Homo sapiens: one gene and its partners. The protein of the gene in region 7 interacts with the protein of the main gene of each other region in a pairwise test. Each region holds a gene or a part of one and is shown on either strand. Other genes may lie near its edges. The genes, in order: PNKD, DELE1, PKNOX1, AGR2, LGALS9C, STX19 and NUP58.

What was found.
Region 1: the proteins of NUP58 (region 7) and PNKD interact in binary tests that used the Homo sapiens proteins (3 or more experiments, as listed by UniProt).
Region 2: the proteins of NUP58 (region 7) and DELE1 interact in binary tests that used the Homo sapiens proteins (3 or more experiments, as listed by UniProt).
Region 3: the proteins of NUP58 (region 7) and PKNOX1 interact in binary tests that used the Homo sapiens proteins (3 or more experiments, as listed by UniProt).
Region 4: the proteins of NUP58 (region 7) and AGR2 interact in binary tests that used the Homo sapiens proteins (3 or more experiments, as listed by UniProt).
Region 5: the proteins of NUP58 (region 7) and LGALS9C interact in binary tests that used the Homo sapiens proteins (3 or more experiments, as listed by UniProt).
Region 6: the proteins of NUP58 (region 7) and STX19 interact in binary tests that used the Homo sapiens proteins (3 or more experiments, as listed by UniProt).

Annotation. Positions count from the first base shown.
Region 1 is NC_000002.12:218,339,460-218,343,781, reverse strand, and holds part of PNKD (probable thioesterase PNKD isoform 1 precursor), read right to left. Parts: intron 4,000-4,322; coding exon 3,884-3,999; intron 3,754-3,883; coding exon 3,641-3,753; intron 3,055-3,640; coding exon 2,996-3,054; intron 2,249-2,995; coding exon 2,156-2,248; intron 1,872-2,155; exon of another isoform or gene 1,802-1,871; coding exon 1,638-1,801; intron 283-1,637; coding exon 196-282; intron 1-195. UniProt on the Homo sapiens protein: Probable thioesterase that may play a role in cellular detoxification processes; it likely acts on a yet-unknown alpha-hydroxythioester substrate.
Region 2 is NC_000005.10:141,936,782-141,941,103, reverse strand, and holds part of DELE1 (death ligand signal enhancer precursor), read right to left. Parts: intron 4,251-4,322; exon of another isoform or gene 4,090-4,250; intron 3,907-4,089; coding exon 3,747-3,906; intron 2,584-3,746; coding exon 2,345-2,583; 3' UTR 1,599-2,344; coding exon of another isoform or gene 1,530-1,598; 3' UTR 1-1,529.
Region 3 is NC_000021.9:42,980,772-42,985,093, reverse strand, and holds part of PKNOX1 (homeobox protein PKNOX1), read right to left. Parts: intron 1-4,322. UniProt on the Homo sapiens protein: Activates transcription in the presence of PBX1A and HOXA1.
Region 4 is NC_000007.14:16,790,666-16,795,176, forward strand, and holds the end of AGR2 (anterior gradient protein 2 homolog precursor), read right to left. Parts: intron 4,355-4,511; coding exon 4,271-4,354; intron 2,293-4,270; coding exon 2,243-2,292; 3' UTR 1,146-2,242; downstream 1-1,145. UniProt on the Homo sapiens protein: Required for MUC2 post-transcriptional synthesis and secretion. May play a role in the production of mucus by intestinal cells. Proto-oncogene that may play a role in cell migration, cell differentiation and cell growth. Promotes cell adhesion.
Region 5 is NC_000017.11:18,490,034-18,494,355, reverse strand, and holds part of LGALS9C (galectin-9C), read right to left. Parts: intron 3,624-4,322; coding exon 3,588-3,623; intron 3,084-3,587; coding exon 3,033-3,083; intron 2,412-3,032; coding exon 2,367-2,411; intron 1,900-2,366; coding exon 1,811-1,899; intron 1,660-1,810; coding exon 1,497-1,659; intron 136-1,496; coding exon 1-135. UniProt on the Homo sapiens protein: Binds galactosides.
Region 6 is NC_000003.12:94,015,677-94,018,864, forward strand, and holds part of STX19 (syntaxin-19), read right to left. Parts: intron 2,823-3,188; exon of another isoform or gene 2,763-2,822; intron 1-2,762. UniProt on the Homo sapiens protein: Plays a role in endosomal trafficking of the epidermal growth factor receptor (EGFR).
Region 7 is NC_000013.11:25,328,747-25,333,068, reverse strand, and holds part of NUP58 (nucleoporin p58/p45), read right to left. Parts: intron 1,713-4,322; coding exon 1,511-1,712; intron 1-1,510. UniProt on the Homo sapiens protein: Component of the nuclear pore complex, a complex required for the trafficking across the nuclear membrane.

The DNA of each region.
Region 1 (4,322 bases), on a different chromosome or scaffold from region 7:
AGAGGTGGTACGGAGCCAGCACTCCAGGAAGAAGGGAGGCCAGAACTCTGTCCCTACCCCTAGAGGTGGAGCTGTGTCGCTTCTGGGCCAGGAACTGGGCTGGCCTGCTTTCTAGGGGAGTGAGGGGGTGGGAAGGCCCTTGTCCCAGGCTGAGCGTGGGGCTGGAGGATGGGGAGTAGTAAGGGGGTGTCTCACCAGGCCACAGAAGGGTGTCATCCCCTAGCCCCAGCACAGTGTCCAGTGAGCTCAGCATGGTCTCTGCATTGCCCTCAAAGGTCCGCCCTGGGTGGGGGTTGGAGGGTATGTCACAAGGTGCCAGGATAACACAATATGGCATAAGGCACACCCAGACAGGTGGGAACCAGCTTGTAATGCTCTGGCTGGCCGTCAGCCCTGACTGTGCACTTTCCAGACCCACCCCAGGCATCTATTCCCTCCTCACTGGGAACTGGGCCCAACTGGTCACCCCCTGACCAAGCCCATCCGAGGCCTCCGTTGCACACAGTGACACCTGAAGGGAGGGGCTGTGGAATCTTCGGGCTGCAGGCCCCAGGCTTGGTAGACGCAGGGCTGCTCTTTCCCACGGAACACTTCTTCGCCTAGGCTGCCCTTTGGGATTTCATGCAGCCTGGGACTTGTGATCCTCACCCACCCACTCACCTAGCTGTTCTTAACTTTTCATAACCTAGTCCTGCCAGTCACTGTATCAGAGAACCAGTCTCCACCCAGGGGAAACTAATTCCCTGCAGGGCTTTACTCAGCTACAGACATTCTCCCATTCTGTCCCGCAGCTGGCAGAAGTCTTTTTTATTTTTGAGACAGAGTCTCATTGTTGCCCAGGCTGCAGTGCAGTGGCACAATCATAGCTCACTGCAACCTTGAATTCCTGGGCTCACCACCACACTGGCTAATTTTTGTATTTTTTGTAGAGACGGGGTTTCACCATGTTGCCCAAGCTGGTCTTGAACTCCTGGGCTCAAGCAATCCACTTGCTTTGGCCTCCCAGAGTTCTGGGATTACAGGCCTGAGTCACTGCTCCTGGCCTATATTATTTATATTATTTAAATTTTTTTTTCTGTTTTGTGACAGAGTCTCACTCTGTCTTCCAGGTTGGAGTGCAGTGGCGCGATCTCAGCTCGCTGCAACCTCTACCTCTCGGGTTCAAGCAGTTCTCCTGTCTCAGCCTCCCTAGTAGCTGGGATTACAGGCATGCACCACCATGCCCGGCTAATTTCTGTATTTTTAGTAGAGACGGGGTTTCACCATGTTGACCAGGCTGGTCTTGAACTCCTGACCTCAGGTGATCCTCCCACCTCAGCCTCCCAAAGTGCTGGGATTACAGGCATGAGCCACCACGCCTGGCCTATTTTAAAATTTTTTTGTAGAGACAGTCTTGCTATTTTGCCCAGTCTGGTCTCCAACTCCTAGCCTCAAGTGATCCTCCTGCCTCAGCCTCCCAAGGTGCCCCAAGGGAAGTCTCAAGGATTAAAACCAATCTGAGTAACACAGATGGAAGTAACTGCCACGGCAACATCTGTGCTAAAACTAAGGCTTCAGTGCTCTCCATGGGACTGTGGCTGCCCTGGCTTCTGTCTCTCCCTCCTCTCCCAGCTCCTCTCTCTTTCGGGGAAACTCACCACAGCCAGAGAGGAAGAGCAGGTCCCCTGAGAAGAGGCAGGAGGGACCCTTGTAGGGCTCCCCATCCAGTAGGTAGACCAGATGGCCTTGTGTGTGGCCAGGTGTAGCCAGGGCCCGGATCTGAAGCCGTCCCACGCTGACCACATCTTGATGACACAGGGGACTGGGGAACAAGGGAGCAGGGGACAGAAGGTATTGGATCTGTGCCATGCTGATCCCTGTCCCCATCCCAGGCCCAAGGGGCTGGGTGATTCACAAGAGAGTGGGCTTCCATACAAAAGAAGTCACCCCAGTGCCTCGGGTCTCAGGTCCGAACCCTCCCCCTTTCCTCTTTTGGGGACTATGGCTGGATCAGTTGGGGGATGGGCAGTGCCAGTCTTCAGATAGGCTGGGATTGGGCCAGGAAGGGCACTGGCAAAGATCCACCTGCTGATACCCCTGAAACACTTCACTGAAGGCTGGGGGTGGGGGAAAGGGCCCATGGAAGGGCCATCCCTTGCCTAGGTCAGGGACTTACTGGGTGAGGTAGGGGATGCCGTCCTGAGGGCTCCCGTACACCCGACAGTCCCGGTGCCGCCGGCTGAGGTCACGGTTCCCTCCACTGTGGTCCCTGCAGGACAGCAGAGACAGGCAGGGGGCTTCGAGGGGCAACTGTACCTAAGCCCCCTTCTTTACCACAGCATCTCCAGGCCTTTAAGTGCTGGGGCTGTGGCTTCTGGACTAAGCCAAGTTGTCCACACCTCTAGGCCTTTGTTCAAGCTGTTCCCTTGCCCAGAACATCGCCCCCAACAACTCAAGCTGGCCAATGCCAGCCGAGCTTCCTGAACCCTCAGCTCAGGTCATCATCTTTCAATTCTCCAAGTGGATCTGATCACACCGTGCCTGGGCCTCCCATCCCTGTTCCCTGTGCCAACTGTTACCTAAATATCACATACTTCTTTTTTGAAGACAAGGTCTCACTATGTTGCCCAGGTTGGGCTTGAACTCCCAACCCTCTTGCCTCCGCTGTTATATACTTTGATACAGGGCTACCTCCCCTATTGGTCTTAGAATTTCCTTGATGGAAGAGTCATAACTTTTGTCCATGCCCAGTGTGCAGTAGGTATCTAATACATGCCCATGAAATGAAAGAGAAATGACTGCCCTGCCCTCTGGGGCTTCAGAAGCTTGATCAATGGAGTGGTGGGAGACTGTCCCCTCTCCTCCCTCCCTGCTGGTGTCCAGGTGACTTCACGAGGAAGGCGGGTGCCGGCCCGTACTGACTTCTTGATCTCTGGCCCCGGCCGTCCTCAATGGGCCCAGTCCTGGCAAGCCCAGCTGGGACAAGGGTGGGCCAGGGAAGACGGGAGCCCCTTACCAGTGCTTGTGAGTACACAGAATGGCGACCAAGGTGACCCCTTCCTTTTCAATGGAAGCCTGCGAGAGAGAGGAGGTTTGGAGACTGGGGAGCAGGATGCAAGAGGCACTTGAAGCAGCAAGAGCCAGGAGTGTGGGCGCTGGTGGAGAGGAGAGGAGAGCATGGAGAGATGAAGCAGAGGAAAGGGATGGAGCTGGAGGGGAGAGATCCAGGAATGTGAAGCACGGGGCACATGGAGGCAGAGGGACACTTGTACATAGAGAGAGGCAGACACAGAGAGATAAGGAATGGGAGGGAAAGACAGAGAGACCCAGATACTGACAGACAGAGGTGACAGAAAGAAAGGGGGTCTGAAGGGGGCCAATGGGAGTGAAAGCCAGCCTGGAAACTCACTAGACCCAGAGTCCTGGGCCAACACCCCCAGCCCTCTGGCTCTGCATCCCCCACTCCTGCTCTCCCCTTCTGCCCAGCCATGCCCTGTACCCCCCTTCCCCAGGCTATGTGTGCGCATGTGCACGTGTGAACATGGAGCATATGGGACACATCCCACGGGCAGACGGACAAGGGTCAGCCCTCTCTAGCAAGGCGAAACTGCCAGTCCCCAAGGTGACTCCAGGCACCCCCTGCTCCCTGCCCTCCCCTCACCTGCACAGCCCGAGGGTCTGAAGGGTCCACAGCCACAGCCAGCTGGGCCTGGGTGTCGATGATGAGGTAGCTGTAGTTGTCCGAGAGGACAGGGATGGGAAGCACCTTCACTCCTGGGGACAGAGATGGGCTGTGGGCGGGGTAACAGGCAGGGAGCCCAGGGGCTGGGGTATGTGAAGGGGAGCAGGCGGGGAGGGTGGGGGCACAGAATGGGGGATGCTGGCCGGGGCAGTCAGAGCTCACCATTGAAGAGGCGGGGCTGGGTTTTCGAGTGGCCTTTAGGGTAGCGATTCCGAGCCCTGCGCAGCTGCTGTCGGTAGAAGAGGTACCCGAGCCAGGTGCGGGTGTACAGGCTGTACCTAGAGGGCGAGTGGGTGGCCTATGATTAGCCTTTTCTCCCTAGCTCCCCTAGACTCCTTCGTGATGCCTGCAGGCCCCACATCTCCATTCCTTTGGTGACCCTGTGAGCCAATGCAATTCCACTCTCACTTATTATGTGCCTACTGTTTGCCCTGCTTAGCACTCAGGACAAGATGGAGAATGAGACGGACACACCTAGAACTCAAAATCTATCAGGGAGACATGAACTGAGGAACTCACAGAAGAAAATTGGAGAGGCCAGGCGCAGTGGCTCACACCTGTAATCCCAGAACTTTGGGAGGCCGAGGTGGGCGGATCACCT
Region 2 (4,322 bases), on a different chromosome or scaffold from region 7:
AGGGCACACGGTGACATTTCACGCAGAGGGTGCCCCAGGAAGGCTCAAAAGCAATCTGTAGGGAAACGGGCTCTGGGCTCAATTCAGTGAGAGAAAACATTGGGTTAACCAAGTTCTTTACTGGAGGACTTCTTGGAACCTCAAATATGCTGATGTGTATTGTGAATCTATAAAAAGGGGACGTCTGGTGCAGCATTTCCCAAACTTATTTAACCACAGAAACCTTTTTTTGTTTGTTTTTTGGCAGAGAGCTTAGTGCACTGCACAGCTTAAAACCCTGAGCTTGAAACCTCAGGTTTCCTACCCTGCATGGGGCCTTGCACTCAGTGCTGGGGACACTGGAATACAAAGACAAGGACCCTGCTCCCAAGGAGTGCCATCTGTGGAAGGTGGCCATGTGCAGGGTCCAACAGTGGTGAGCCAGTGTGCAGGGCAGCCCTGAAAAGGAGGCAGGGAGCAGGCGAGGAGATGGAGCTAGAGGACGCTTGGGCTCCCCGGGTGAAAGAGAGGTGCTAGGAAAGTATGGCAGGACCACTAAGAAGTTGAGAGAGATGGGGTGGGAAGCAGAGAGGGAAACGTGGACAACTTTCCCCCCTCAAATCTTCTTGCCTTTGAATTGGCCAGGCTGGTTGGTCTCCACTCAGTCATGGGATTGTGGGGGGTGGGCGGTGGGCTCTCTATCCCTCCCAGACCCCACTCTCAACCACATCTATGCTATTCAACTTGGGCTAACATCCAGAAGCCAGGGAATAGCTATTCACAAATTCAGTAACTGGACTCATTAGCACTGACTCAGAAATCTTTTTTTTTCCTAAGTCTCTCTCCTGGAGAAGCTTTTAAGATCCTTTAAATTGGTTAGTGGAGAGTTTAGAGATGAGGACGGAGCCTCAGCTTTCAGCTCCCCCTGCCCGTCTCCCTGGCTCTTCCCATAATACTCAAGGGCAAGAGTGATGAGATAATCCAATATCTGTTTTATTAAACACCTAGACATTTCTGGCACATGTTTCCCAAATGGGGACCTCAAAATCTATACTCTCCAGCTTTAAGACTCCTAGCATTCAATCTACATTTACTCTCCCATGGGTAGGACAGTCATAATGCTTTCACATAAAATTGCAGTATGAACTGATGGACAAGAACTCTGGGCCAGGAGTCAGGAGGCCCAGGTCCTCACCCTGGCCCAGCGACTCATAAAGTCATGCAACCATGAGCATCACTGCCTCCTGGGCCAAAGTGAGCACAAAGGTCCTCTCTGTGGTGAAATGCCCTTGCATTTGTCTTCTAAGGTAGGAGGGCAGACACCATTGCCTTTGGTCTACAACTGAGGAAACAATATAGGGAGTCAGGTCACAGCTTCAAGGTGACATGGCCAGGCAAGTGGCAGAGCCAGACCTGGGTCTTCACACACTTTCCTCTTCTTGACTGTACTGGCGCAGGTGCTTAAGATTTGGGGGAAGGTGGGTGGGTATCTGGCCTCTTCTTTGGGACTCAAATTGTGATATCTCTCTGAGAACCCACAGGCTCCCTCTTTAGGGCTGAGGTGAGAAGTTCTGAAAGTCAAGCAGACACATCCAGGCATTTGGGCAAGAAACTTCTTCCTTCCAAATCAAAGGTGAAATGAAAACGATTATGAGCCCACGGGGGATGAACAGAGGTGAATGGTGGGCTAGTCTCGAGGATGGCCTAATTCAGAGTTTCCTAAGTGTCAGCCATTCATGGAACCACCCCTGTGATTTTTGCTACCTCTCTGGATCTGTGCCCACTTTTACGTTATGTTTTTCTTTAAACTGATTCACTATTTTTTTTTACAGTTAGCTTTATCCTAGACAGAACATCTATCAAACTACAGGTCAATATGCTAATCATATTTTTATATTATACATTAAATATATAACTAAATAGAAAATATTAATTTGAATACCATCTAAAATCTTCTTGTGAACCAGGGATACACACATCAGACATTGGCAAACAGTAGTACAGATTTAAGTGTGAGAAAACCCAGGCATAAGAAGGAAGAAGGTAAGTTATTTGCTCAAAGACAAAGGCTAAGGTGAGCACCAGGGTCTCTGGACCCTTCAGTAGGGTTTTTCATAGGTCACTGAATGCATCCTTTGGTGCACAGACCAGAAATGACTGTGAATGCATCCAAGACTCATCTGTGAGGCTACCAAGCGGGGGGAAAGATCAGTCACTTACCAGCCATGTACGTGAAATTGCTTGGGAACCTGAACTCCCGCTGGAATTTCTACCTGGAAAGGGTTGCTGATGCTCTATTTTTGTTATCCAACCTCCTGCCCGCTCTGGCCCCTAAGAGGCACCAGGGACTATGTTTTATCTCACCTTAGCCAAAACCTAGTCTTACAACACTCCTTTCCAGTGGGTAGGGGTGTGGGGGAATAGCCCTGCTGGAGGCTTCCAGGCTGGCTCCGAGATGCCCACTTCTGCAGAGGAGGCCAAGGTTGCCTGTGCTCGAGGCATGTGGTAGGCGTGAGGTTCCTGCTAGCAGGGTGTTCAAGCTGCAGAGGGAGGGGCTGGAGAAAGACTTCAGTCCTGTAACTGTCAGGTCGCTGGGCCCCGGGGCTACAAGAAGAGGTGAGAGCAACTCTTACTCTTGCTGTATATTCTTGGACTCCTACTTTGGAGCCAGCACTTCTTCAAGGGCTTGGTTCCCCAGGCATTGTTAACTCCCAACCCCAGTGACTCATGAGTGAGCAGGGCTCTTAGAGCCCTAGAAGGGTAATTCAGGCAACCTTGGGATATTGTCTCTCCTACAAAATCATCAGAGCAGCTACCATTTGTTCAATACCTACTGTGCTGTCAGGCTGTGCTAAGTCCCTTAGTGTCATCTCATTTCATCCTTATGACAACTTAATGAGTTAGGTGCTACCATTACCTTCATTTTCAGAGGTGAAGAAACTGAGGCACTAAGCCATGGAGTCCAAGTTCAGTGATAGTGGGGGTTAAAACTCAGGTTTGACTGGGCGCGGTGGCTCACACTTGTAATCCCAGCACTTTGGGAGGCCGAGGCGGGTGGATCGCCTGAGGTCAGGAGTTCAAAACCAGCCTGGCCAACATGGTGAAACCCAGACTCTACTAAAAATACAAAAAATTAGCCAGGGATCGTGGTGGGTGCCTGTAATCCCAGCTACTTGAGAGGCTGAGGCAGGAGAATCGCTTGAACCCGGGAGGCAGAGGTTGCAGTGAGCCGAGATCGCGCTATTGCACTCCAGCCTGGGCAACGAGAGTGAAACATCATCTCAAAAAAAAACAAAAAAAACTCAGGTTTGTCTTGACTCCAAAAGCTGCATTCTTTTTTTTTTTTTTTTTTTTGAAACAGAATCTTGCTCTGTCACCCAGGCTGGAGTGCAATGGCGCGATCTCGGCTCACTGCAAGCTCTGCCTCCCGGGTTCACGCCATTCTCCTGCCTCAGCCTCCCGAGTAGCTGGGACCACAGGGTCCGCACCACGCCCAACTAATTTTTTTTTATATTTTTAATAGAGACGGGGTTTCACCGTGTTAGCCAGGAGGGTCTCGATCTCCTGACCTGGTGATCTGCCAGTCTCGGCCTCCCAAAGTGCTGGGATTACAGGCGTGAGCCACCGTGCCCATCCCAAAAGCTGCATTCTTAGCCACCACTGGGGTTGGAAATGACTAGGAGACCAGAGACTACTGCTACCTACTTATCTGTCACAGAGTACTGAGCTCAGGGAATGAACCTGTTGGCTTGGACTTGGGTCTGTACCTGCAGCCCCCATGGAAAAGAGGGCTCGCAGCCTCTCCTGGGCGGCCTCATTTCCCAGAGCGGCTGACTGCTGGTAACATCTCAAGGCCTCTCCCAGATTCCTCTGCACACCAAGGCCTTTCTCATAGCAAATTCCAAGGTGGTACCTGCTCTGTGAGTCCTAAGGAGAAAATGGACAGACAAACAGATACACACATGCAGGAATGAGGAACTGACATGCTAAGGGAGGAGGAAGATGAAGTCAGGCATGCTGGGACTTCATCCACACACGGTCAAGGCCCAGTCCTGGCCCGCCCCATAGCAAGGGATCTCAACTACGAAATGCCAGAGGCTCAGAGCTCACCCAACACAAAGGAGAGGGGGATCCCTCCACCCAGGGAGATTCCAGCCAGGGCAGTGTGGAGGCTTCTCTTGCATAGGCTGGCTGAAAGCATGCACAACGAAGGCTACAGGAAACACTCAGGCCAGTTATAGCAAACCTGGGAGTCGGGCTCCTATGTTGCCCTGAAACAGCAAGGAGGCGAAGGTGGAGGGTTGTCTTCCCAAAGGCCCTGTGCCTTCCTGAATCTCTGCCTG
Region 3 (4,322 bases), on a different chromosome or scaffold from region 7:
ATCGCTCGAACCCGGGAGACAGAGGTTGCAGTGAGCCGAGATCGTGCCATTGCAGTCCAGCCTGGGCAACAGAGCGAGTGAGACTCCATCTCAAAAAAAAAAAAAAAAAAAAAAAAAAAGAAAAGAAAATGAGGAACCCTAACCCTTGGAGGCAAGGACCCCTTTCCCATGGACAGCCTCTCTCAGGCACTGCCTACACTGGGCACACAGCACTGTGGAACTGGCACCTGCACTCCCTCCCTGCACAGCAGCCACCCCTCTCTACTCTCCCTGTCAGCACTAAGCTTGGTGGGTCAGAGGGACTCCAGCTTTCGGATGGCAAAACACAGAAAGTATCAAAACCTAAATACTCAAAAGGCTCCACAACATAGAGCATGGCCGTAAAATAATACAAAAAACTGGAACTGGCCGGGCATGGTGGCTCACGCCTATAATCCCAGCACTTTGGGAGGCCAAGGCAGACAGATCACCTAAGGTCGGGAGTTCGAGACCAGCCTGAACAACATGGAGAGACCCTGTCTCTACTGAAAATACAAAATTAGCCAGGCGGGGTGGCACATGCCTGTAATCCCAGCTACTTGGGAGGCTGAGGCAGGAGAATTGCTTGAACCCAGGAGGTGGAGGTTGTGGTGAGCCAAGATCATGCCATCGCACTCCAGCCTGAGCAACAAGAGCAAAACTCTGTCTCAAAAAAAAAGAAAAAGAAAAAAACTGGACTCACAAAAGTGTATGAGACCTTAAATTTTTAAAACGAGAAATGTGTGGATTATATAAATGTTTTAAAAATCACTAAAATGCCAACTAAAAGCATAACACAATATAGCTTAAAAAATATGTAAAAACGTATGAACATAGCCAGGCACAGGGGCCCATGTCTTTAAGTCCCAGCTCCTTGGGAGGCTGAGGCAGGAGTATTACTGGATTACTTGAGCCCAGGAGTTGGAGACCAGCCTGGACAACATCATGAGACCCTGTCTCTTTAAAACACACACACACACACACACACACACGCACACACACGCACACACGTATGCATGTAAGAAACCCAATTCAAAAAGGGGCAAAGGACTTGAAGAGATATTTCTCCAAAGACATGTAAATGGCCGATGAACATGTGAAAAGATGCTCCACATCACTAATTATTAGGGAAATACAAATCAAAATGACAGTAAGATGCCACCTCAAATCCATTAGGATGGCTGCTATTAAAAAAAGCAACAACACATAAGAAAATAAGTGTTGGGTAAGATACGGAGAAACTGGAACCTCTGTACTGTTGGTAGGAATGTAAACTGATACTCTCTCCTTATTGAGTCCTTGGAAAAATAAAAAATAAATTAAATTAAAAGGAATATAAAACAGTACAGTTGCTGCGAAAAATCGGATGGAGGTTCCCTAAAAAATTAAAAACAGAATTCCAGTATGATCCAGCAATCCCACTTCTAGATCTATATCCAAAAAAATTGAAAGTAGGATCTCGGAGAAGTATTTACACACTCAGGTTCACAGTTTTATTATTCAAAATAGTCAAAAGGTAGAAGGAACTCAAGTGTCTGTTGAGGGATGGATAAACAAAATTCAGTATATCCACACAATGGAGTATTCAGCCTTAAAAAGGAAGGAAATTCTGACACACACTACAACATAGATGAACCTTAAGGACATTATGGTAAATGAGCTAAGCTGGTCACAAAAAGACAAATACTACCTAATTCCACTGGTATGAAGTCCCTATAGTAGCGAAATTCAGAGACAGGAAGTAGAATGGTGGTTGCCAGGGGCTTCAGGGAGGGGAGATGGGGAGGCAGTGTTTAATGGGTATAGAGTTTCAGTTTTACAAGATGAAGGGTTCTGGAGACAGATGGTGGTGATGGCTGTACAAAAGTATGAATGAACTTACCACCACTGAACTGCACACTGAAAATGGTTAAGATGGTAAATTTTGTTACGTGTATTTTACCATAACAAAAAATTGGAAAAAAAAGGCCAGCCACAGTGGTTCATGCCTGTAATCCTGGAACTTTGAAAGGCAACAGTGGGCAGCTCATCTGAGGTCAGGAGTTCGAGACCAGCCTGGCCAACATGGTAAAACTCCATCTCTACTAAAAATACAAAAATTAGCCAGGCGTGGTGGTGGGCACCTGTAATCCCAGCTACTCAGTAGGCTGAGGCAGGAGAATTGCCTGAACCCGGGAGGCAGAGGTTGCAGGGAGCCAAGATTGCACCACTGCACTCCAGCCTGGGCAACAGAGCAAGCCCCTGTTTCGTGGGGGAAAAAAAAGTATGCTCAAATACGTAACTAAATTTAGAAGAACGTAAAGTTTAGCAATTTAATGTTTATTAAACTTTTTTTTTTTTTTTTGAGATGGAGTTTCGCTCTTGTTGCCCAGGCTGGAGTGCAATGGCGCGATCTCAGCTCACCATAACCTCCACCTCCTGGGTTCAAGTGATTCTCCTGCCTCAGCCTCCCAAGTAGCTGGGATTACAGGCATGCACCACCACACCCGGCTAATTTTTTGTATTTTTAGTAGAGACAGGGTTTCTCCATGTTGTTCAGGCTGGACTCGAATTCCCGACCTCAGGTGATCCACCCACCTTGGCCTCCCAAAGTGCTGGGATTACAGGCGTGAACCACTGCACCCGGCCTTATGCTCCTTTTTCTTGTCAAGTTAAATTCCTAACATTTTTAATGCAAAAAAATGTACAAACCTTCATAAAATGTCTGAGAGAACATGTAACAAAACACATGCGCTCACTCAGGCATTATGTTCTGGAAACTGTGATCATAGTACCTACCAATCCACAGCCCCTTTGAGTGACCCAACCCCACTGGCAGGCCCTGCTCAAAGGGGGCCTTCCTTGTGCAGGTGTCAGAAGCTCATTCCTCCCCAAGCACCACTCCCTGGGCCAGGTAGCCCTGCAACACCCAAGGCCAGCCCCCAGCCCGAAGGTCAGCGCCTGGTAGGTGGTGTGAGGGGAAAGAGCACAGGCACTCTCTCTGAGGTGGGTGCTGGAAAAGGGAGAGTACAGGGCAGGTAAGGCTGGGTGAGCCCCCACTGTGAGGGGAGCGTACAGATGGAACAGACAGTGGAGGGCAACCACCTAATTGAAGCGGAAGGCCAAGAGCCCTGGTGCAGAACTGGATCCTGCCAGAGCACAAACCATGGTTCCATCTGCCCAGAGGCCCAGCAACAATACAGTGGTCCCAAGAATCCCATAGACTCCTGTTTTCTTTATCCCTGCATGATCCTGAACCACCTATCTCACCACCCACCCAACTTGAAGTCAGCCTGCTCCCTGCCACCCTGAGAACCCGACTAAAACAGCCAATCATTCCAGCGTCAATCGCAGACGGCAAACAGTACAATTAGCTGGGTGTGATGACACGTGCCTGTAATCCCAGCTACTTTGGGGGCTGTGGCGGGAAGATTACTTGAGCCCAGAAGCTCCCGGCTGCAGTGGGCCGAGATCGTGCCACTGCACTCCAGCCTGGGTGAAAAAGTGAGACCCTATCTCAAAATAAAATAAAATTAAAATTAAATAAAATAAATAATAAAATAAAATAAGCTGCTCTGTCCCCTTCTCAAGTCCCTGAGGCATGGCCTCAGAATCAGAGCTTTAAACAGGAGTTTTATACCACATGCCAGACAACACGTTGACTGAATTACCACACTGCCTTCTATGTGAATCTTCCAGAAACAGTAACTAAACCGGCAGGGGCTAATAATCCAAAACAAGGAGCTACCATCTGCCAAGGGCGGGAACAGGCCAGGCTCCAGACTTTGCACACTGTCACGAGCAGGGCACCGCCAGCACCAGGCCTGCTGGCTCTTTCCACCAAGGACCATGCCTCTCAGCCCTTGAGTGCTTCTCCTAACAGTTTCCAGACTGACCTTCTTCTATGTGATATGTCCACTCTACATGTCCTCCTGAACAGTGTACACAAGACAGAACCATGAGGTATCCACTCAGTGCTGCACACGGATGCAAGATGGTACTTCCCAGGGCCTGCAGCCACTTCCTTCACCCTCACCTCCAAGGACACACACTGTTAGGCTTTGGGTTCCCCTATCTGTGCCGTTTTTATTTCCTTGTCTCTTTTGTCATCAATATAATCATTTGAGGAAGTAAAGAAAGGACACCATATATTCCTACAAATGGATAGGCTGAGAGTAAATCAACTTGGTATTTGTGAACATGAATGATAAAAGGCAAAAACTTCTAGCTGAAATGTAGCACTCCTTCAATTACAAAGGCAGACAATAAGCCCTGGAGTTTTAGCAGGAACAGCAACAGGTATTTTCCAAAGCATTAGAGTGTCA
Region 4 (4,511 bases), on a different chromosome or scaffold from region 7:
GCACTTTGGGGGGCCAAGGCAGGCGGCTGGGAGGTGGAGGTTGTAGCCGAGATCACACCACTGCACTCCAGCCTGGGCACCATTGAGCACTGAGTTAACGAGACTCCGTCTGCAATCCCGGCACCTCGGGAGGCCGAGGCTGGCGGATCACTCGCGGTTAGGAGCTGGAGACCAGCCCGGCCAACACAGCGAAACCCCATCTCCACCAAAAAAATACGAAAACCCGTCAGGCCTGGCGGCGCCCGCCTGCAATCGCAGGCACTGGGCAGGCTGAGGCAGGAGAATCAGGCAGGGAGGTTGCAGTGAGCCGAGATGGCAGCAGCACAGTCCAGCTTCGGCTCGGCATGAGAGGGAGACCGTGGAAATAGAGGGAGAGGGAGAGGGAGACCGTGGAAAGAGGGGGGGGGGGGGGAGGGGGAGGGGGAGGGGGAGGGAGAGAAGAATTTTTATGACTACTCACCTAGACAGGATTAAAAAACTGCATTTTGTCTTAATATACCATGTGGCCATTATATTTTTGGGAGGTTGCTTTTCTGTGGTACGTTTAAATAATGTTACCATTGGCATCTTGACAGAACTGTTTCTGTTGAATGATTTCCTTAGGATAAATTCTCAGTGGTGGAGGAGACTGATGGGACAAAGTCAATTAATGACTCATGCTTTGTGTTTCTTCAATGCTTTTAAAAGGGGGACTTATTTTCCTTACAGCTGTAACATTTGATTTCCTAAATATTTATTTATATTTAAAAAGTATTTGTATGTGTTAAGATATTTTGCCATTCAATACATTTTAAGAAGTTAACCTTATTTCACGTCCGCCCAATGAAAAAATATTTTGCTATACTATAGGAGAAACTTGAATCACTTAGAACTTGTCATTTAAAATATTTGTTTATGGAAGGGAAACCTCTTTTTCCTCTTGTTATCCCTCAGAGATCTTTTTAAATGGAATGTTTTACCTTTTTCAGCACATGTAAGTTATCTACTTGTGAGAAGGGAGCTGATTAACCTGTGATATTTTTGCTGAAGATTTGTATGTCATTAAATCAGCAGTATATGCTCAACACCTACTAATGATAGTAGTCACTAGGAGAGATAGAAAAGATTGAAAATATATCCCTGGAAAAATTAATAATGCCAAAAGATCTGTTCAAAAAAGGTTTTATCCAAAAAAGTTAATCAAGACAAGCAACAGATACTGCAAAGCATTATATACAGCACCATAGTCCAGGGGCCAAAGAAATCAGGAGGGGCTGGGCAGTAGAGGAATTCCATATATTAATGAATGTGAGATTAAGTATAGAGTGAAGACATTAACACACAATTCTAATTTCTGTTAGGCAGAATGCTCCCCTACCCTGATGCCACAGCCTTTCACGTTTCCTAAACCCTAGTAACCTCTGATCTCCATCTGCCTCATCAACACGTCACCACCCTTTGCTCTTCTTCCAATTAGTCACATGTTGGCTGAATTTATTTCACTCCAGTACTTTAGGACCTTGACAGACAAATCGATTACAAGGTCAATTCCCAGGATTTCTTCAGGGTGTGTTCAGGAGTGCAGATGTTCTTTGGATGACCTTTCTACTAAATTAGACCTCTGAAGGAGAAAGCTACTTGCCAGAGGCTTTCCCTGAGAGCATTAGGTTGGGCAAAATCTGACTAAAATTTAATTACTAAATGAAAGTGTGTACCTTAGAGTTCCTGGCCAGAGTTGACTCTAGGTAGTGATGTGATTTTCTTGGGATGTTTTTCTAAATATTCTTTTATGCTAAAGCACATGGCTTGATACTTCTGTTGATTAAGCTCGTGTCTACTTACAGTCATCTAGTGAGAACCTGTGGTGTGGTGAGATGATAACTTGGTCTTTGGTCTTCATCATTTGAACTAGTTTTGGTTTTGTCTTGTCCCTTCCTTGAGCATTTTGTGTGTGTTTAATCCTATTTGGTAAACGAACCACTGTGAAAGACCAAGTTGGAGAAAACAGAACACCCCCAAAACATTTATTTTTTTTTTTAGAAAATCATGGCTCACTATGGTAGTATACAATATTGTTTTCACACATGTACACTTGAAACCAAATTTCTAAAACTTGTTTTTCTTAAAAAATAGTTGTTGTAACATTAAACCATAACCTAATCAGTGTGTTCACTATGCTTCCACACTAGCCAGTCTTCTCACACTTCTTCTGGTTTCAAGTCTCAAGGCCTGACAGACAGAAGGGCTTGGAGATTTTTTTTCTTTACAATTCAGTCTTCAGCAACTTGAGAGCTTTCTTCATGTTGTCAAGCACTAATGGGGGATAAAAGCAGGAGAGTCAAGACACCATCGTGCGTTATATCGATATAATAAACCCCAAACTTGGATGCTCAATTCATTATTTAATGGGATGCTTTTTTTTTTGAGACAAGGTCTCACTCCCACTCAGGCTGGCATGCAGTGGTGCAATCTCCACTCAGTGCAACCTCTGCCTCCTGGGTTCAAGTGATTCTTCAGCCTTAGCCTCCTGAGTAGCTGGGATTAGAGGTGTGCTCCACCATGCCCAGCTAATTTTTGTATTTTTGGGAGAGATGGGGTTTTGGTATGCTGGCCAGGCTGGTCTCGAACTCCTGAGCTCAAGTGATCCACACACCTCGGCCTCCCAAAGTGCTGGGATTACAGGCGTGAGCCACTGTGCCCAGCCTGATAGGATGCTTTTTATCATGAGGTGAATAGTTGGTAATCTTATTGTAATTTAAAAAAATTATATGAAATGGCTTTTGTGACAATCTAGTTTTCTAGTGTAGTCATTCCTTCCCAGATCCTTCATCTCCAACCCTCACTTCCAAAAGAATCCTTTTATAAGCTCTAGCAGCAGAAGATAATTTTGGCTCATTTAGAAGTAAATTTAAATCATGTTTAAAAGAAATGTCTATTAGTAGGTGTGTGTAAATTGTTTTAGAAGTAGGGGAAATATAAATAATAGCAAACCAAGTGCTTTATGCAGATGAATTCTTTAATCCTCATACAAACACGATTAGAACTTTATATATACATAATGAAACAGGCAGAGAGAGGCTGAGTAGCTTGCTCAAGGTCACACAGCTAACAAGTAATGGAGCTACTGTTCCAGAGCCCAAACTCTGGGTCACTGTTTCTTCAACAGCAATTCATCAAAATGAGGTATGTGATCTACTAAAAATAAGATGTCCACTCGATAGGCATTGAACAGCCGCTTATTCACTCTTCCTACAAATCTTAATTATTAAGTGCCTGTTCTACAAGGGATTGTGATATTACTTGTGTAGGACACGTGCCTTTTAAGAGCTTAGTCTTATTAAAATGTATGGTATTATCTCAGTAATGGCTGACAGTACTTGGAATGTGCTTCCCCTGGTCCAGCACACACTGGAAACATTGCTAATGGACCATGATGATCTCTCCTGCTTCCTAGACACGGCCTCACTTCTCTTCCCAACATGACGTTCTAAGTCAGCACTGGCCAATAGAAATTTCTGTGATGATGGAAATGTTCAGTGTCCGGGCATTGAGCACTTGGAATATGGCTAGTGTGACTGAAGGAATGAATTTCTAACTTTAACTTAAGTAGCAACATGTGGCAAATGGTTAACATATTGGACAGTGCAGTTCTAGGCAGCCACTACTAATTGATCAGAGTTGGTTCCTAGGATAAAACCCACTTTTCTTCCCAGAGGACTAATCAGATGTCACAGCTAGCTACAGCGTTGCATTGAGGTACCTCATCTGCCTTAAGTCAGTGTCTCTCTCTCTCTCTGTCTCTCTTCCATTGATGGCAACCATAGGGAAGGTAATTTTCTTGGCAATCATTTGGATCATCTTTGAAACTGATCTTTAAACTGAACCTGAATTTAATTTTAAGCTGGACTGCACATTCTTTCACTTTTGTTATTTAAAAAATTAAGACATGCAGATTATTACAATTATTACACTCAGTTCTGTGATAGAAGGAGTGTGTGCTCGTGTACCTAACAGAAAACCTGAAAATCAGGTAATGTGGTCATAGAATCCTCCTAGAGAAAAAGATACCTAATCTAAATAATTCATCTTCAATTGAGATTAAAAACAAACAAACCTGAGATGGAAAGAGTGTGATTTGCCTGAAGATGCAAGGCTAGTTAGGGTCAAACTGAGTCCGAGGCGTCCCTAAGCCTAGCTCTCTCTCACCTCACCATGCAGCCTCTAGTCCCATCACTACAGCAATAGAGGTGTTCAACTCTTGGGCAACATCCGAATTGAAGGTCACACTTACACAGAGCTGTATCTGCAGGTTCGTAAGCATAGAGACGATTTGAATATCTTCCAGTGATATCGGCTCTAACTGTCAGAGATGGGTCTGCAAAGATAAATGAAGCAAAAGGGAATGGAATGGTTTGTTTTCAAACAACCTGTATTTATTGCCCCGGGGAGCTGAAGTTCATGTATTCATGTCCTGTGAGGGAATGGAGTGTGTCTGCACTCACAGGAGCTCTGATCCATCCACTCTACTACCC
Region 5 (4,322 bases), on a different chromosome or scaffold from region 7:
GTGGGTCAGCTGGATGTCGCCACCCACTTCCAGTTTGTTGATGGTGGGCAGGTTCCTCAGGCGATGGTAGTATTCAAACACGTGCTGACCATCCACGGCCACCTTGAGGCAGTGAGCTTCACACAAGATCCACACCTGTGCAGAGATTATGCCGTTTGCACTACACTTGGGAAGTCCTCCACCCTCACTGCAGCCTCCTCTCTCCCTCCCTCCCTCCCTCCTCAGTTGTTAATAAGCCCCTCACCTGCACTCTATCCCCACTGAGCGACCGGCTCTTCACTAAACAGGCTGTGCGTGCTCCTTCCCCTGTACTGTTCCCTGGCGTAGAATACTGTTCCCACGACATCAGGGACAGGAGCACTGGCCTGTGCCATCTGTATCCCTCGGACCCAGCACACAGGAGTGCTCTGGGCCTGGGCTCCTGCAGCATCAGCCTCCTAACTTGTCTTTTCCACCCCAATGCCTTCTCCATGAGGCAGTCAGGGTACAAATGTTAAAACCTCCTGCCCTTTGCAATAGCTGACACTCCTAACACACATGCCATGTGTAAGGCACTGTCCTAAGCGTGCTACAGATACTGCCTCATTCCATTCTTACAGCTCTAGGAGATTCATATGATTATTAGCTCCATTTTGTAGATGAGGAAACTGAAGCACAGAGTAGCTAAGTCACTTGCCCGAGGTCACACAGCTGTCCACAAATCAAAGAATGTTGCTCCCTGGCTCCATGGCTGCAAAGCCCTACATCAGTCATTTTCAACTCTGATTGCAGAGTGTAATCACTTCAGGCATATTTTAAAAATACAAATGCCCAGGCTGACCGCCTCATTGGCCTGGGCTGGGGTCCCAGCACCTATATGTTCTTTGTAAGCTCTCTGGGTGATTTGAATGTGTAGTCAGGGCGGAGCACGCCTGCTGCTGTTCCTGGAGAGGCCACACCCACACCTCTGCATGTTGGCCCTAGCTGCCCCTCCCAGGCTCGCTCTATCTCATCGCTCTGTTTTGCTTTCTGCGTGGCACTGTTGTTATCTGCAACAATCTGTTCATGCTTTAGTTTCCTTGTTCCTTCCCCCAGCTAAATTGTAAACTCTCTGGAGGAAGGACCCTACGTGTCTGCTTCATGACTGCGCTCCCAGCATGTGGAGTGCTTCCTGCACAAAGCGGGCGACAGTGAAATCGTTGAATGAGTCAGTGAAGAAATGAATAACACCTCCTTCTTGGGTCTGATTTGACACTTACTGACTGTGTGACCGCAAGCAAGTAACCTGCACTTGTGAGTTTCTTTCCTCATCTAAAAAAGCAGATCCCAACGCTTCCTTCATGCAGGACAGTAATAATTATTAATAATAATGACAATAATTTTTTGGCCACCTTTTCTTCTGGGCCCTCATCCCAGAGGCATCAGCTCCCATCCTGTTCAAGGTACCCCAGACCTCCTTTACCCCCTCCCCGTGTACCCATAGGAGCCTCCTCAAGCTCCAGGCTGCGGCGCCTTACCGAGAAGCTCTGGCCTCGGACGAAGGGCATTTTTCGGGGCAGACTTCGCTCCTCAGACCCCCAAGAGTTGTTGATCTGGGTGTTACGGACCACAGCATTCTCATCAAAACGGGGGTTCATGTGGAAGGCGATGTGGCTCCCAGAGCACAGGTTGATGTGGAACCTGGGGTGGGCAGCCTACCTGGACCTTTGTCCACTGAGTTCTGAGCCCCATTTCCTCCCCATCATCCCCAGCCTGCCAAAAGCCAGGGGAATGGCTGGAATGACCTTGAAGGGCTCTCTCTTCCCAGAGGTCACTGGAGCCTTTGGCTTACCTCTGAGCACTGGGCAGGACAGTGCCTGACAGGATGATGGACTTGGATGGGTACAGCCCTCCCGGAATGGTGGTGATGAAAGGCATCGGCTGTCAGAAGGACGGGGACAGGTCAGCCAGTGGCAGTCAGGGCAGCCGCCACATGGAAGGGGAAGATTGTACCAGTTCCCATGAATTTAGGCTGTCAGCTGAGAAGAAGCCCACGATATCTTTCCTTGGTTCCATAAAAGCCAAAGGAAAACTTTCCGGTGCTCCTCAAATTAATGGGCTTAGATTAGTGTCATGAAAGGAAATTTGGCCAAACACAGAAAGAAAGACTCGTGGGGTGAAAAGGGAGGGCCATGCAATGTGCTCACGTTGACACGACAGTTTTAAGGTTGAAAGCTCCTCTCCACAGTCTTCTAATTCACTGGGACGCTTTGAAGCCCTTCAGCTTACCATTTTGAAAGCCCTTCGCTTTTCATTTTTCAAGGCCAGCGGATCCCCCCGTAGCGGCCCTTCATCCCTAGCCTGCCCACCACAAACAGAACCTCTGCCCTCCCTGAGAAACCACTTACATAGGCAGGGTGGGGGTACATCATAGGTGGGATGGCGGGAGTCTGCTGAAAAGAAACCAGGAAATTCAATGGGAGAGCGCATGTGTGCGCGAGCACTCACCCACGCGCACCCACGCATTCTAGAGGGGGCTCCACTGTGAGGCTGACCTCATGAGCCTTTGGCCCTTGGACTCTCCCGTAAACCTCCGTTTTCATGTTAGCCTTCCTGGAACTTCCTGCCGTGTTCCCAGACCCCACCATGGTCACCTGCCCCTCAGCCCCTCCGCAGGCAGCCCCACTAATGCTAAGTTCCCGGCCTGATTTGCACCAGCAGGAGAAGAGCTTAAGCCTGTGATCTGTAGTGACATCCCGGGGACCCAGGAGGCAGGGCCAGGAACCTCACATCCGGGTGCTGGGGCCACTGCACTCCCCACTTGGTGACAGAAGGACCAGTTTCCCTCCCAGTCTCTAGGGAACCTGCCTCTTCCACCACTGGATAAATCCAGAATCTCTGCTGTCCCAAGGATAGTTTTAACCACATGTCACCTGAGCCAAGGACTCAGCCCCAGATGTCCCCACCCTCCTTGCTAAACCGCTTTCTTCCCAACTCTAGGGCTCTAGGGAGTTTAGTTCTTGGGGAAGGAGGGCACTGTGCAGCTGTGAACTGATCAGAACTTGAAGACTTACAGAGAACATCTGTCCAGAGGCACTCTGCACCGTGTGGATGACTGTCTGGGTCTGGAAGAAAGAAACCAGGTCTCACCCAGGCTCTCCTGAGTAAAGACCACCCCAGCTCCCACCAGAGGGTGCCACACGGCAGGCACCCTCCAGGGGCATAACCAGCCCAGTGGCCCCACAGACCCCACGGAGGGTGGGTCCAGGGGACGAGGGAGAGGCAAAGGTTAGGACCCTGGAGAAGACAGATGGGGACGCTGGTGGCTCTGGCCCATCTTTCCTCTCGGGGAAACGTCTCTCAGCCTAGCCTCCCTTTGCAGGTGAGAGAAGTGAACGTGGGGCATGGTCTTCCGTGGCTGCCCATGGAGTGGCAACTCAGGTTGTTCCATCACGGCCAGCCAACCACATTCACCCACCAACCTCGCCAGGCCGGGTAGATGGTCAAGGGCCTGGCCTCTGCCCTCCCCACTCCCGATGGGAGAGGCCCAATGCCTGGCCCTGCATCCTCCATTAGCCCAGAAGAAGAGCCAAAATCAAGAGGATCCAAAAAGAAAGCAAGAGACTTACAATGGGAGCTGGGTTGGCAGGCCGCACGCTGGGAGGCTGGAGGGGTGAGGAGAGTCAGAACGGTGGTTATTGCGGGCACCACAGAACGGGGAGAGACGATGGCAGAACTCCAGGGAGGCTCTTGTGCTCAGAAATGCCTCCCCAGACACACCCACCTCCCTCTTGCTCCCAAGCAAGCCTTCCTGAGCCCGTGGCACCCAGATTTTTACCCTCAGGTGCACAAGGCTTTGGGGTTGAGGGGTAGGGTATCCCCACTGGTTCCTCTCGAGAGAGAGGAGGCTGGGTTTGATAGAGACCTCATTGCTGTCTGTAGCTCCCACAGCCAAGAGCATTACTTCCGGTGCCATATTTCACCCGTAAGCTGAGAAGTGGTATTTGTTGAAGGCCTATTGTGGGCCGAGTCCTGGGCTTCAGTGCTTTCCAAAGAGGGAAGCAGCCTCAGCTCCTGTGTCCCTGGTGAGGCAATGAGGCTCAGAAAGATTAAGCAACTTGCCCAAGCTTGCCCGGGTGGAAGGGATCAAATCCAAAATGGCAGCCAATTCTGTCTGACTGTATCCAGCACACTTTCTGTCATCCCTAGGGCCAGGGCCAGCGCCAGGGCCAGGGCCAAAGTTTGGCTGCCCTGCGAATGTTCCCTGGGGCTCCACCAGTCCTGAAGTCAGCGTGGCAGGAGGCAGGTGCACTGTCTGTACCATCATGGGCCATAAAAAGGCTACATAGACAAAGCGCCCCTCC
Region 6 (3,188 bases), on a different chromosome or scaffold from region 7:
TAATTTGGCCAATGTAATATTAAAAAATACTCATTTTGCTAAATATGCATCATTCAGTTAAAACCATTGTAGTGACAGTACAGATTTTATATGAGAACGTTAAGCTATATGGATAATATTGAATTTATTTTAAATTTTCCGAAGCCTCTGAATTAACGTATTACTTGGCATAATGTTTTTTCTAGCTGTTGCATATATGTGAAAACATTGGTTTGATTATGCTGATTTCTCATTCTTAGCATTCTTTTGCAAAGATATCCAGACTGTCTTAGAACAAAATTTATATCAATTTGTGTTAGGTGATACTTTTATAAACATGAGAATATATTTATATACAATCTTATTTTAGGAGTAATAATGATATTGACACTTATCACATGCTGTGTTGGTAGTTATCTGTAAGAATCAAATTGATGTACATAATTTATATTTAATGATATAGATATATATGAAATGACATACATACATATAAAATGAAGGGAATAAAAAGCAGTAAAATGCTATTATCACAGAGCAACTTGATTTTAGAAATGTCTTTCAAGACATTTTTGAAGATAAGAAGAGGCTGTTAGGGAGTACAGATAGCTCATTGGACCACATATAATATTAATATCAACCAGAAAAAAAAGGTCTCTGAATGTGATGCTGTTATGCTGTAGGACTCAGTGTTTGATATGTTTATGGAAATATTTCTATTAATCTGGATGTTGTCATAGGAGGCATACTTAACAAATGTGTAGATGGTGTAAAATTTGGAGGAATCTTTAGTATGTTGAAGTACAGGGTAGGGATTCAAATATTAAAATAGTGTGGAACTTTATACTAAAAATAACAAAAATATATTTAACAGGAATAGATTTAAAATATTTCATCTAGCTATAAGAAAAATATTTTCGTATCTACAGAGTAGAAGACCCTTGGGTTCACAATAGTGTCTATGAAAGTATTGGAGATTTTAATTAATTAAGCTTTCTTTTTTTTTTTTTTGGAGATGGAGTCTTGCTCTGATGCCCCGGCTGGCATGCAGTGGTGCGACCTCAGCTCACTGCAACTTCTGCCTCCCGGGTTTAAGTGATTCTCCTGCCTCAGCCTCCTGAGTAGCTGGGATTACAGGTGCCTGCCACCATGCCCGGCTAATTTTTGTATTTTTGGTAGAGACAGGGTTTCACCATATTGGCCAGGCTGGTCTCAAACTCCTGACCTCGTGATCCGCCCACCTTGGCCTCCCAAAGTGCTGGGATTACAGGTGTGAGCCACCGCTCCCAGCCTAATTAAGCTTTCTGTCAGAACCATCAGAATAGTCACTATGCTTTTATAAATAATAGTCTGATGTATGGATAGACTAAACTCTGCCAACTCTATGCTATTCAGAGCAAATTGCAAGGGTAAGGGGAACTCAATAAACTTCTGAGCATATTTTGAGATGGAAGTTCTTAAGTTAGGAATTACCAGACTAGCATGGAAAGGATGAGATTGGAAAACCATACCAAATGGAGACTCATTGAAATAAATGGTAATATTTGTCCTGTAAAAGAGAAGATGTAGGGTGTGTATACAGCTGTCTTCTAAACAAAGGTCTGTGTATGCAAGTGAGATTAGACTTACTTGGCATAACTCCAAAGGGCAGTGGGTGGAAATTACATGGAAAGAGGTTTGATTCAATATAAAGAAGACTTTTCAAACAAATATTGCTTTCCCAAGATGAAATGAGCTGCTTCATGAGGTGCTGAGTTTGCCATCACTGGACATTTTCAAGATGTTCTGGAATGATGACTCCAGGCAGGCATGTTACAGAAATGATGCCTGTTTTGGGTAAAAGGTTAAACCAATGTCCTGGTAATATTCCTTTGGTTTTAAAGGACTGGTATTTTGTGAAATAGTCATTGAAGTCTTATATGTATATAAGTTTTAAATGCTGTAATATATATTTAACATTTTCTGTCCTTGAGGAATTTATAATTTAGGGTGAGAAGGACAATATACAATTTAAAAGATAAACGGGATAATTTTAGGTTTTGATACAATAATCAGGCAGGGTCTCTAAGCAGATATTTGAGATGTGAGACTGAATGTTGAGAAGCCAGGCAGATGAAGAGCCGAGGGAGTGTATTGTAGGTCTAGGAGTTGGGTTGCCAAGGCAGTGAATGAGACTGATATGTTTTAGGAACAGAGTTATTGCATAAGAACAAAGTGAATGTAGATAGAAAGGAATGAGAGGAGTAACATGGGAAGAATGAAGTAGAAAGGTAGGCATGGACCACATCATAAAGGACTTGTGGGCCAAAGGAAGGAGTTTAGATTTTATTCTAGGTGCAGTAGAAGACAGTTAAAAGATAAATAGGATATTGACATGATTTGTATATATTTTTTCATTTTGATATGTAATTTAAAAAAATTTTAAACTGATACAGGGGTGTCCCTATGTTGTCCAGGCCGGTCTTGAACTCCTGGGCTCAAGCCATCTGTTCGCCTTGTCCTCCCAGAGTGCTAAGATTACAGGCATAAGCCACCATGCCTGGCCCTGATTTATATTTTTAAAAGATGTTGTTGCTTTCTATATAGAGAATAGTTTCCTGGGGAGGGGGTGGGAGTAGTTCACAGAAGAGACTTTAATGATAGAGATGGAGTAAATGGGAACCATCAGGATATATTTTTGAAACTAGAAGCAATAGGACTTGATGATTTTAACCCATCAGCACTTAACACAATCATTTCTTGAGACACTTTGAAGAAAAGTATTTCTCCTGTTTTTTTTCTCTTACCTTTTTGGCTCTTCCTTTATCACTATTTTCTTTTTCCTGGCTACTCCTTATCTCCCCCACCTGTAAATATTGGAAGATTTTAGACTGAGTCTCATTTTTATCCATCATCATTTTTTAGTCTCATGGCATTAAATGCTGTTTGTAAGCTGATGACCCAAATTTGTATCTCCAGTTTAGGTTGCTCTTAAAAAACTGCCTACCTGACAGCTGCATTTGAATGCCTCTATCCAAAATGAGCTCATAATCTTCCTGTGAACCCGTAAACTGCCCCATCTCTCTTCTGGCAACTCTATTTTTCCAGTTGCTCAGACCAGAGACTCAGAAGTCTTTTTTTGTTTGTTTTTTGAGACCGAGTCTCACTCTGTCCCCTAGGCCGGAGTGCAGTGGTGTGGTCTCGGCTCACTGCAACCTCCGCCGTCCGGGTTC
Region 7 (4,322 bases):
CTTACAACATAACTTTTTATATAACTGACATTTCTCAAGTTCTATTTAATAGAATGGAAATTCACTATGTTTAAAGAACACTTAACCAAATCTACACTTATCTACTTTAGGATTAATACTGGCTCTAAAAAGTAAACTAGTACTATGGTTGGTTTGATTAACTGGTTAGGTAATCATGAGAGCTGATGGTCATAATTATGGGATTGAATCCTTTTAAGAAGAAATATCAATCCTCAAAGGAATCAATCCCATAATGACTTTTTCCCTCCATAACTTAACAATGCAATCCTACACTCCAGCCAGCTAGAGAGCTACCAGACAGTGCTCGTGCGAGCCACTATTCACATGGGTCCAGCCACGGGATATGGAGGATTTGGCATAAATCTATCATCAACCCTTTACTTATGGCAAGTCAATTCTGTCATCTCCAAATGTGAAGAACAATTTTTTAAACTGCCAATAGTGAAAACCAGAGAATGCTTCCCTAGTATAGGTAGCTTGAATGCAATCTAAATATGTATTAATTTTTTTGTGTGTATTATAATGTACTACTGGACTATATGGAACTCTCAGAAAGACACATGCTATTGAATAGTAAGCATTACTAAGAAATTTATGAATGATTAAAATAAAAAAATCAATATCGATTAAGACTATTTTTCCATGTCAAGCTTCAAACCTGACAAAAGGGATGGCAGGATTAAGATAACTATTAACCTCCGAAAGACACAGGACCAAATAAAACACTGTAGAATGACCACAAAAAATGTTTCTCTAATTAGAAGTGTAACTAAACCAAGAAATAAAACAATCTGCTTTCCATGTCACCAATTATTTTCATCTGTTCAACTTCCCAGTTGCTCCTTAATGTGCAATCCACATCTCAAAACATCTTTTTCCTGCTCTTGCTGTTCTGTTCACCTTGGAAAGGTACAATTCTAGCATGTATCATCTTCAAAATTTGGTTTAGAGGGCTTGTATTCTGTTTACAGTCAACATACATACAAACAAGCCTATTGATCTTCAACATACCTTCAGTCAATAAAAGCATACTTCATCCTGAATGTGGGTACTTTGTAATCACTATGTATGAGGAAAATGAGAATGCACCACCTATCAGTATCATATATGAAAAATTCAAAGAATGGATGGATGATCTCTGACTTTAAAACAATAAATGGTACAGTCATGATTTCAGAATCTAATGTTATTCTTAAATGTAATTCACTAGTGAAACACCATGTTCTAAAGGGCATTTATAGCATTACAGCAAATAACATTAAGTAGATTCACAATATTCAATATCTAATTGATGTATAATTATTGCTAAGACTACCCTGCCTTTTTTATCAGGTATGTTTATAATCGTGTCCATCACAATTTTAGATTGTATTGGAACAGCTACTCATAGAAATTTCTTCAGTGCTCACACAAATGGAAGACTTATAAAAACGCACATAAATGTTCTGCATTGGAACAGTAAGAAGCTATAACTTGAATGCGTTCAGACCTGTAGCAGGCTGTTGCTGCTGTGTAAGTGTTGCAGCCATGGCAACGGCTGCTGCGTTTGGCATGGTGCTGAAAGGAGTGGGTCCAGTAGTAACTCTGGGTGTGTTCTGCCACTTCTTGGCTTCTGCTCGCCTTGTTTCAAACACATCAACAGCATCTCCCAAGAACATTTTCCTGTAGCCAAGGTACTGTTCTTTCAGAACCTAAAAGAATAATAAACAAAACGGCTAAATGAAGTTTCACATTGACTATGGTTAATATGTGGATGAATATAACCATAAATTACCAAAGACAGTCCCAATATTATACATTCAATCCAAACTGCAAATTAGAGTGCTAATAATGCACTTTGGTGTAGGAAATGATGAGTTCAAGAGTTCTACTGCTCCCTTGAATAGTTTACTCCCTATCTTTACAATATGCTTCCTAAAATACTGTCTTTGTGAGGCCTTGTTTAAAATAAATCAGCTAAGCTTTTAGACAGAGTAATATTTAAATACTCCATCAATGTGCAGATGGATGGATGAAAAGAATTTAAAAATAAATATTCCAGTTTTTCAAGAAACTTTCCCCTCAAATGTCCAACCTTTTCATAGCCTTTTGATTAAAACAGTTTAAAAAAAAAAGAAAGAAAAAAAAGTCAGCACTAAATATACATACTTTTAAATACATTTTTTAGAAGGCCTGGGTAACACATGCTAAAATAAGGTGTTGCACCTCAGCAGTGGTTGGAGGGTATGATGAGGGCTTCTACTTTATTGCTATTATTTGACCATTGTACAATGAGACTTGATTCATGTTAAAGTTATGAACCCAACCACCCGCCTCAAAGAAAAAAAGTGTTTGTAACTCCAGAGTAAGAAAAATTCCCAAGTTCATAAAGTGAGCTGCTTTTACCCAATGCAGCATCTGCTTTGATTAAGGCCATCAACAGCAACAATTCTGTTTCACTTTAGAATTATTTTATGCTTTCATTGAAGATTTAGCCTAATTTAGATAGGTTTTTAACCACTTTTTGAAGAGACACAGATTTTTCATATTTCTTACATTTCTTAGCAGAAATTAGTAAACATTAGGTTCTGATTATAACAAATACAGCACTTAAAAATCTTACTGTTGTTTATAGTATTTAAAAGCTATCATCGCCCTTTTTGTGTGGATGTCAGTGTTTGATGTTCCAATTCCAAACTTTGCTACATTTATGATGTATTAAAAAAGGGGGCCTGCCAAGAACTGGATACTGGGGAAGATACAAAGCCAGAATCAAGACATATGATGTAAGAAAAACAAGCACTACCGATCTCTTGCAAATCCACCCTTCCTTGTCCTGGGCAAGCATCAGTATCCCATAAATTTTAGTTCTACTTCAGATAATGGAAAATAATGATCCACCTTAGAAACTTAAGACCAAGACCATTAGTTAAAAGAAACAGCCTGGCCGCGGTGGCTCCCACCTATAATCCCAGCCCTTAGGGAGGTCTAGGCAGGAGGACTCCTTGAGGCCAGGAGTTAAGATCAGCCTGGACAACACAGCAAGTGCCCCTCTCTACAAAAAGTTAAAAAATTAGCTAGGTGTGGTGGTGCATGCCTGTAGTCCTAGCTACTCAAGAGGCTGAGCCTGAGGCGGGAGGATCGCTTGGGCCCAGGAGATTGAGGCTGCAATGAGTCATGATTACGCCACTGCACTCTAGCATAGGCAACAGAGCAAGCCCTTCTCAACAAAACAAAACAAAATAATAAAACAAACAAACAAAAACCTTGACATCAGCCATGATTTATAAAACAAATTGCTAAAACTTCCAAATGTGTTAATGTTCCTGAGGCCTGGCTGGATAGAATAGTTAACGCCTGTTTCAACAGATTACCTAATGAAAAACAAAACGAACAAAAAAATGTCTTGTGAGATTTCTACAAGAAATAAAGAAACCTAGAGCTTAGTTTGCTCACTAAACTAAGCTAAAAATAATGGCAACATACCAAATCTGATTATAAAATATTCTTTGGTTCTTGGGAATATCCTTTCGTTCCTGGGTTGCTTAAAGAGTAGGTCAAAATTTCATGTCTACAACGTTTATTTGACGTGATCTAGGGCAGTTTTATGTGGTCTTGGTCTCACTGTTTTATGGTCATATTACCAAAAATGATATATTTTCCAAACCAGAGAGGAGACAGTGCTGCTAAAAAAAATGTACGTTTACACCTGGCATTTGCTCTGAAATACTTCGTGGGGGGAAAAAAAGCATCTTCTGTGGAGCATTGATAAAACAAGTTCAGCAGGGTTTTGATAATGGTTGCAATTAGGTAGTCATACCTGGGCATTCAGTATAATGATAGCCTACTTTTGTGTATATTTGAAAGATTTCATAATAAAAATTAAGGAAAAGAATTCTGTGCAACGGACTTCAAAGTGCCATACATTAATTTTATTAAAAAATTAAAGTAACATTTATTATAGACTAATAGAATTTTTTTAAATCTGATAAAATTCCTCCTTTAGAACAAAATTTAAAGATTTGGGTTACAGTTTTAAATCTACTAAAGCAAAAGGTCTAAAGTGCACTACCATTTCAAAAATGGTGTAATTTAAATGGTTTACTTAAAAAAATCCTGTTACTATGCATGAAATCAAAATAAAAATGAAAATGTTGATAATTCCAATTAAACTCTATTCTACACAGTTGATAATTTATCTAGACTCAGGTTTCGCTGCTTGAATTTTAAAGGTATTTTGGACCACATACACTCCAAGATTAAAGAGTTTAATTACATTTGCTCAGTTAGTTAGAAAAGATGTACTTACCTTGAACATTTCA